Regions from separate parts of the Homo sapiens genome. Here region 1 is linked to region 2. Evidence: fine-mapped QTL for protein levels in blood plasma. A gene starts in region 2. The other region holds a variant in brackets. All regions are shown on one strand. Distances are from middle to middle.

Evidence for each region. A credible set is the group of variants that fine-mapping cannot tell apart. PIP is the chance, under the fine-mapping model, that this variant and not a neighbour inherited with it causes the effect. Protein levels are from antibody-based Olink assays in UK Biobank. Linkage for the fine-mapping came from a reference panel and not from the study's own genotypes, which makes the PIPs less certain.
Region 1: its variant is the best candidate, but not a certain one, in a credible set for the plasma level of the ADD1 protein (UK Biobank, PIP 0.87).

Annotation. Positions count from the first base shown.
Region 1 is chr4:3,043,969-3,048,352 of GRCh38, reverse strand. It overlaps the pseudogene RNU6-204P and HTT-AS. Among named protein-coding and RNA genes, the nearest start is that of HTT, 29 kb to the left of the region's middle. RefSeq lists an enhancer at 284-643. The variant T/C (reference allele first, on the strand shown) is at 1,738.
Region 2 is chr4:2,841,092-2,845,475 of GRCh38, reverse strand. ADD1 (adducin 1) reads right to left here and starts at 1,632. Exons shown (of 16, transcript NM_001354761.2): 1 at 1,452-1,632. SH3BP2 (SH3 domain binding protein 2) reads right to left here. Exons shown (of 13, transcript NM_001122681.2): 13 at 4,380-4,384. RefSeq lists silencers at 1,171-1,320, 1,441-1,630, 1,691-2,070, 2,171-2,220 and an enhancer at 2,349-2,860.

The DNA.
Region 1 (4,384 bases), 200 kb before region 2:
GCAGAAGCTGAAAGAAATGTGTGACCATGAGGACACCGTAACCTATGAATGACGTGCTGAGACCAGAAACCCAAAACGATGGTAACTGAGAGTGGTGCTAAGGCCCTAAGTTTTGGTCACACTCTCGCCTGTAGGGTCCAGCCCTACTGGGCCTGTGGGTTTTTCTCCTCACCTGCGGAGATGAGAGATCACAGAAATAAGGACACAAGACAAAGAGATAGAAGAAAAGACAGCTGGGCCCAGGGGACCACTACCACCTAGACACGGAGACTGGTAGTGGCCCCGAATGCCTGGCTGCCCTGTTACTTATTGGATACAAGACAAGGGGGCAGGGTAAGGAGTGTGAGTCATCTCCAATGATAGGTCAGGTCACGCAAGTCACGTGTCCACCGGACAGGGTGCCCTTCCCTGTTTGGTAGCCGAGGCGGAGAGAGAGAGGAGACAGCCTACGTCATTATTTCTTCTATGCATTTCAAAGACTTTAGCACTTTCACTAATTCTGCTACTGCTATCTAGAAGATGGAGCCAGGTGTACAGAGCGGAACATGAAAGTGAAACAGGAGCGTGACCGCTGAAGCACAGCATCACAGGGAGATGGTCAGGCCTCCGGATGGCTGTGGGCGGGCCTGACTGATGTCAGGCCTTCCACAAGAGATGGTGGAGCAGAGTCTTCTCTAACCCCTCCGCCCCTCTCCCCTGGCCAAAGGGAGACTCCCTTCCCTGGTCGGCTAAGTAACAGGTGCCTTCCCAGGCACTGTCATTACCACTAGACCAGGGAGCCCTCTAGTGGCCCTGTCTGAGCGTGACAGAGGGCTCACACTCGTCTTCTGGTCACTTCTCACCCTGTCCCTTCAGCTCCTATCTCTGTATGGCCTGGTTTTTCCTAGGTTATAATTGTAGAACAAAGATTATTATAATATTGGAATAGAGTAATGCCACAAACTAATGATTGATAATAGTCATATCTAATCATATCTATAATCTATTTCTAGTATAACTATTCTTTTTGTTTTGTTTTGTTTTGTTTTTGTTTTTGTTTTTTGAGACAGAGTCTCGCTCTGTCACCCAGGCTGGAGGGCAGTGGCGCAATCTCGGCTCACTGCAAGCTCCGCCTCCCGGGTTCATGCCATTCTCCTGCCTCAGCCTCCCGAGTAGCTGGGACTACAGGTGCACGCCACCACGCCCGGCTAATTTTTTGTATTTTTAGTAGAGACGGGGTTTCACCGTGTTAGCCAGGATGGTCTCGATCTCCTGACCTCATGATCTGCCCACCTCGGCCTCCCAAAGTGCTGGGATTATAGGCGTAAGCCACTGCGCCCGGCCTAGTATAACTATTCTTATTCTATATATATATTTTTTATTATACTGGAACAGCTTGTGCCCTCGGGGTCTTGCCTTGGCAGCTGGGTGGCTTGCCGCCCACACTCACCTAAGTGAGAACCTGGACAGAAAGGGGAATTTATTAAAATAAAATTATGGGAGGCCATTGTTTTGGACTGAGCTCATGCACTATGTCCCAACAGACTAAGCCAAACAAAAATGGAGTCACTCATGCTAAATGTGACATAATCAAACTAAGACTTTAAGGAAACACATAGATCCTAACAGATTCCCCTATAAACAGGACGTTCCAGCATAAGGAGGTACCCTCAGTCCTTGTTCCTACCTTTGCAAAACTCACTGTTCTACTGTTTCTCAGAGGGTTTCAGGACCAAATAAGTACATTTACGATGGTGA[T/C]AGTGACATCAATGACTAAAGTTTTGGTCAATCTCTCAAAATTGAGAAAATGACCAAAAGGGTGGAATTGTTAAAGCAAACTAAATATGGCCTGAGAAGGACTCCATACTTCTCTATTTGAGTCCTTGTGGACGAACTGCAACCTAACTTAATTGGTAGACAAGACTGAAACCCTGACATCCTCACTTGGGAGTCTGCACCTGTGGCAGTACCTGAGTCTTGGCCAATCCCAGCAGCCGTACTTCACTCGTACACTGCTGAGAGTTCAAACTGTGTCCAAATAAGGCAAATGCCGAGCTGCAACCAACCCAGCTGTTTCTGTACTCACCTCCAATTTCTATATGTCACTTCCCTTTTTTGTCTATAGATTTGTTCTGACCACGAGGTATCCCTGGAGTCCCTCTGAATCTGCTGTGATTCTGGGGGCTGCCCAATTCGTGAATCGTTCATTGCTCAATTAAACTCATTTAAATTTAATTTGGCTGAAGTTTTTCATTTAACAGAGGTATATAATATGTATTCTTTAAAATGTTCAAACACTGTTTTGAGTGCATATTGTGCTTTTTTGTTAAAAAAAAAATTATGATGTGATGTTTACTGCTCCCTTGAGGTACATAAGAAAATCCTAAAACCCCTGCCAACTGAGCGGACCGCTTCTTGGTCGAGGAGACCTCAGAGAAACCTTAAAAACTGAGTTCCTGGCCGTGACAGGACAGGTCAGACTCGCCTCAGTGTGCCCCTTCCTTAATACCCTTTCACTGGAATGCCTTCCTAAAGAATAAACAGAAACCAGCTCTAGAAAAAAAGAACAGACATCTCACTCTTCTATTGCCTTTAGCCAATCATCTGAGGCCACGGCCAGGCAATGCTTCCCTTCCTGGTAAGAGACCACAGAGCCTGCAGTGGCCGTGGCCGTCTCCAGAGGCGGTGCAGTGAGGGTTCTCGTGTCCTCTGCTTCACCTTTTGACGTCAGAGGGAGGAAAACCACATCCTCCGATCACGCTAACCCCAACATTTTTTGAACACGTGACCCATGAAGAGGCATGAAGCTAACTGCACACTGGGTGTTGCTCCCCTCACAGATATTCATAACTCCTCCTACAGCGTATTCCATATGTATATTCAGCCACCCTGAGGATCTAGGGGAAAAGCGCAGTGTCCTTTTCCTGTTCTCTCACTCAAGAATCAACACAGAATACTTCTCCCCACCCACAAGCAAGCAATCAGTTCTGCAGCGGACACCAGCTGGGTGTCCTCTCATTCAAGTCTGACGGCATCTACCTGTAGACAGCGCCTGACCACACAGATCGAGGACTCAGTTCCCACAAGACTGAACCCCGTTTCCAATGCCAACTGCAAGCCCCTGGTTATTTGGCCTGTGATTCTGACTGACCTGCTAAACATTGGGGGTTCCCACAGCCCCCTCCTTGGGTTCAATTAATTTGCTAGATCAGCATACAGAACTCAGAGAAACACATTTCCTGGTTTATTACAAGGCATATTTTACAGGATACAGATGAACAGCCAGATGAGAAGATGCATAGGGAGCGTTCTGGAAGGGTCCCAAGCACAGGAGCTTCTGTCCCCGTAGAAGGGAGGTGCGCTGCCCTCTAGAAACCTCCACGTTACCCGGAAGCTCTCTGAACCCTGTCCTCTTGGGTTTTTATGGAGGCTTCATCACATAGGCATGATTTAATCATTAGCCATTGGCGATCAGCTCAACCATCAGCCCCTCTCCCTTCCCAGAGGGCAAGAGTAGGGCTGAGTCCCAACCTTCTAACCCTACCTTCTTCTTTCTGGTGACCAGCCCCACCTCCTATCTTGAAGCTGTCTAGGAGCCACCAGCCACCTCATTAACATACAAAAAAGACATTCATCACTTTGAAGATTCCAAGGATTTGGGGAAATATATGCCAGGAGACTGAACGAAAACCAAATATAACTTCACAATATCATGGATGACTGAAATATGTAATAAAAGATTAAGCAGGCCAGGCACAGTGGCTCACACCTGTAATCCTTTGGGAGGCTGAGATGGGCAGATTACTTAAGGCCAGGGGTTCGAGACCAGCCTGGTCAACATGGTGAAACCCCATCTGTACTAAAAAAAAAAAATTAGCCGGTGTGGTGGTGGTGCCTGTAATCCCAGCTATCCGGGAAGCTGAGGCATGAGAATCACTTGAATGCAGGTTGCAGTGAGCCGAGATCACGCCACCGCACTCCAGCCTGGGCAACAGAGCGAGACTCTCAAAAAAAACATTAAAAATTTAAGCAGCCAAATGACATGGAAAGAAATAAATCACTATATTAATTATATAAATAGCAAACAAAATGTTGATACGGATTGCCTATGCACAGCAGCTAATATTAAAGACGAGATTTTGTGTTTTTTCTTTTTTTAAATATATTTTTGTATGGAACGCTTCACAAATTTGTGTGTCGTCCTTGTGCAGGGGCAATGCTAATCTTCTCTGTATCATTCCAGTTTTAGTGTATATGCTGCCACAGCGAGCACTGTTCTTCTTAATTTCAAAGTTCTCTTCAATACATACATGCTTGCTTATAAACAGAAAGAGAAAAATGAGATGTTCAACATGTTAATTGAACAAGTTACCAAATGGTCTGTGTACAAATCCTGGCCTAGGTT
Region 2 (4,384 bases):
AAGCAGTTTTGACTGCCCAAATCATCCACTTCCTGAAAAGACAACTTTACTATTCTAGTTTTCTCCACTGTCAAAATCAAAGGAGTATATTAAAATTTTAACGTAGGCCAGGCGCGGTGGCTCACGCCTGTAATCCCAGCACTTTTGGAGGCCTAGGCGGACGGATCACGAGGTCAAGAGACTGAGACCATCCTGGCCAACATGGTGAAACCCCGTCTCTACTAAAAATACAAAAATTAGCTGGGCGTGGTGGCGCGCGCCTGTAGTCCCAGCTACTCGGGAGGCTGAGGTAGGAGAATTGCTTGAACCTGGGAGGCGGAGATTGCAGTGACTGGAGATCGCGCCACTGTACTCCAGCCTGGCGACAGAGCGAGACTCCGTCTCAAAAAAAAAAGGTATCATCGCGGGCCTTTGTCCATTCAAGGCTCCAAAGTTTACAAACTCACTTTCATACAATTCACACCCTCTGCCTGAAATGCCCTCCTCTCTCTGGTGCCTGTTGAACTCCTACTCATCCACTCCAAGCTTGTTTTCACTAGGCGCCTCTACTCATAGACACAGTCGACCTATCAGCATTCTATTTCCTATCCCCATTAAGATCTCAGTCAATTTTTCACACAAAAAATCTTTCTTTAACTTACCAGTAATGCATACAGCTATCAGCTATGTCTTTGGTCTTTGGAGATATGACAATTGCTTTTTGTCTTTCTAAACATAAATTATGCTCAAACCAACAACAGTTTCAGGCGAACCAAAATACGTTTTTCAAGGTGGGTATGCATAAAGTGAATGCAAATTACCTCCCAACTATCTTGAGCCATTACAAGAGCAAAGATAAAAGTCATCCTAACAGGGAAAGGCCCTCTGACATCTCCCAAAAAACGAAAATAAAAGATTAAGAAAAAAGAAAAGAGAGGGAGGGCAAAGGTGACCAACAGCCCCATCGCTGATAAAGTTCCACGATTATCTCTCGAGCGTCCGTCGGCAGATATGGCTTTTCTCTTTTGGCAGAAGCCGTCGTTTTTAAATACGAGAGCCGACAGATGCGTCCGTACACAAACCTTGCAGCCACCAGCGCTGCGGACCGCGGAACCGGTCTCACAAGCAGGATGCTGACCAGCGTCCAGCCAGGGTCGTCCTCCTCCGCCCCCACCCCTGCAGCCCACAAGCCGGCCAGGAACGAGCGGCCCGGGAAAAGCCTAGTCCCCGGGGTCCTATCCCGATGAAAGATCTGCGGCGCCCTCGCTCCCCGGCTCGGCCCAGGCCGAAGGCCCCGCGGGGACCCCTCCAAGACGCCCTCGGCGCCGCAGCGGCCTCCCCGCCCCCGAGGCTGCCCGGGCCGCCGCAGGCCCCGCGGCCCCCGCCCGCCGCAACCGCGGCCCAGTTCCCCGCGCCCCCGCCGCCGCCTCAGCCCGAACCGGGCCCCCGCCGCCCCCGCTAGCTAGCCTCACCTCAGAAGCGAATCGTGGGCAGCGCGCGGGATTCCGGGGTCCCAGTGCGGCCACCGCCCGTCGGCTCCGGCTCCGGCTCCGCCCCCGTCCCCTGGCCCGCAGCAGCGGCCCGCCAGGCCTCTCCGCCCCTCAGCCCCTCCGCTCGCCCCCACCGCCCGACCTGGGTGCGGCCTGCGGCGCTGCAGCCCAACAACGCGCCGTCCCATAGGCCAAGCCGCGCAGCACTGCCGAGCAACGTACCCTGCGATTGGCGGGACCCATGAGGGGCGGGTCCCCTGCGGGCAGGGCGATTGGACTCGCCAGGCCCGCCTCGGGGCGACCCCGCCGGGGCCTGCGGAGGCCCAGGGTCCCGCGCGGAGTACACCCCGGCCGGCAGCTTCGGGCGCCAGGTCATGGCTTCACGGTGGCCAGGTAGACTGCGGCGAGCCCCTGCCGGGTCCGCTGGACACGGTTTCATTGTGATTGACCTCCGCCGGAGGGGCTGTCGGAGCCCAGGGACCCTGCCCTCCCGCCGCCGCCCAGCGCACTCCCCCAGCAGACGGGCCCTGCCCCGCGTAGCCCCGCCTTGTGCAGTCCCCAGGCCGAGTTTTGGGGCCCGGGTGGGGTCAAGGCAGCAGGGCCTGTGGGCCCCGATAAGGCTCCACAGAGGACAACTGCCTGGCCCCCGGGCCCGGCCTGCGGGTGCTGAGGAGACCAGCGAGCACCAGCCACCTCCGCACGACCAGGGAGTGAGCCTGCGGGGCTTTGGCAGGACCAGCCTCAGACCAGCACCTTCCCGCACACTGTCCCTCCTGCTGGCGCATCTGACACCCAAAAAAACAAGCAGCGAGACAAATGGGCACGGCTGCTTGTCCTCTTGACACCCATAGAAAGCTTAGGTCCAGAGCTGGGCAGTGGCAGAAGAGTGTGGAATCCAGACCTCCCTGCTCAGCAGGAGCCTCTGTGACATTGCCCCAACAAGGGTCAGGGATACTGTCTGGATGGAAGCCAGCGACCCCTGTTCTAACCATTTCTGTTGGACGTTGGCTTTTCCAAGACGATTTTTCTGACAAGATCACAATTCTGTCTCATTCACTTCTGCTTCCCATAGTTAATCACTAGGGAAACGCAAATCAAAACCACTGTGGGATACCACTTAACATTCATTAGGATGGCAGTTGAAGAAGCAGGGAGTTGGGCGCAGTGGCTTCAGCCTAAAATCCCAGCACTTAGGGAGGCAGAAACAGGAGGATAGCCTGAGCCCAGGAGTTGGCAGACTTGACTGGACAACATAAGGAGACCCTGTTCTCTACAAAAACGAGAAGAAAACAAAAAGTTTCAAGGGGGGAGAAGGAGGAAGAAGAGGAAAAAAAGAAAATAAGTGTTGGCAAAGATGCGGAGAAATTGGAACCCTTTGTGCATCGCTGACGGGAATGTAAAATGGTGTGGCTGCTGTGGAAAACCGTAGAGTGGTTCCTCAAAAAATTAAACATAATTACCACATAATCCAGCAATTCCACTTCTGGATATATACCCCAAAGAAATGAAAACAGCTATTTGTACCATGTTCATAGCAGCATTATGCAGAGAAGGAAATTCTATTTATTGGGGTTTTGTGCCTTTTTTTTTTTTTTTTTTTTTTTTTTGGAGTCAGGGTCTCTGTCGCCCAGGCTGCAGTGCAGTGTTGCAACCATGGCTCACTGCAGCCTTGACCTCCTAGGCTCAAGGGATCCTCCTGCCTCAGCCTCCCAAGTAGCTGGGACTACCAGCACGTGCCAACATGCCTGGCTAATTTTTGTTATTTTTTGTAGAGACGGGATCTCACTATGTTGCCAGGGCTGGTCTCAAACTCCTAGGCTCAAGCAATCTTCCCAAATCCAAACTCAGCCTCCCAAAGTGCTGGGATTACAGGCATAAACCCATAAACCACGATGCCTGGCCAAAAGAAAGGAAATTCTGACGCATGCTACAACATGGATGAACACTGAAGACATGCTATGTGAAATAACCCAATCACAAAAAGATAAATGTATGATTCCACTTGTATGAGGTGTCTAGAGTAGTCAAATTCAGAGAGACAGGAGGTAGAATGGTGGTTGCAAAGGGCTGGAGGAATGGGGATTTAGTGTTTAATGGGTACAGAGTTTAAGCTTGGGGTGATGAAAAAGTTCTGGAGATGGATGGTGGTGATGACTGAACAATAATATGAATATTCGCAAAGCCACAGAACTGTACACTTTAAAATAATTAAAATGATAAACTTTATAATATGAAAATTTTATCATAATAAAACAATTTTAAAGCTATTAAAATATTCCTTCCTTTTCCAACTACAAAAAAGTAAAAAGGTCCAGGCGTGGTGGCTCTTGCCTGTAATCCTAGCAATTTGGGAGGCCAAGGCGGGAGGATTGCCTGAGCTCAGGAGTTAAGAGATCAACATGGACAACATGGCAGAACACTGTCTCTACTAAAAATACAAGAAATTAGCTGGGTCTGGTGGCAGGCACCTGTAATTCCAGCTACTCAGGAGGCTGAGGCACAAGAATTGCTTGAACCCAGGAGATGGAGGTTGCAATGAGCCAAGATGGCGCCACTGCACTCCAGCCTGGGTGACAGAGACTCTGCCTCCAAAAAAAAAAAAACAAAAAAACAAATACGGTCTTAGGTGAGAGTTTTAAAATACATTGAGTTAGAATTAGATATATACAACAATAATATCAAGTAATGAGGGAGACCAATGAAAGTCACCTGAGGTCCTTATGTTGTCCAGGAGGAGGATAAAAGTATTTATTAGTTAACTCTAGACTTCAGTAAGAATAGAGAGTGTTTAACTTTCTAACTAGGAGAAGGGGGGAAATGAAATGATTTGTTTTAAGTTGCTCAATCTCAAAGAAGGGGAAAAGGAGAGAAAAGGGAGGAAGAAAACACAAACACAAGTGAGACAATATGTAGCA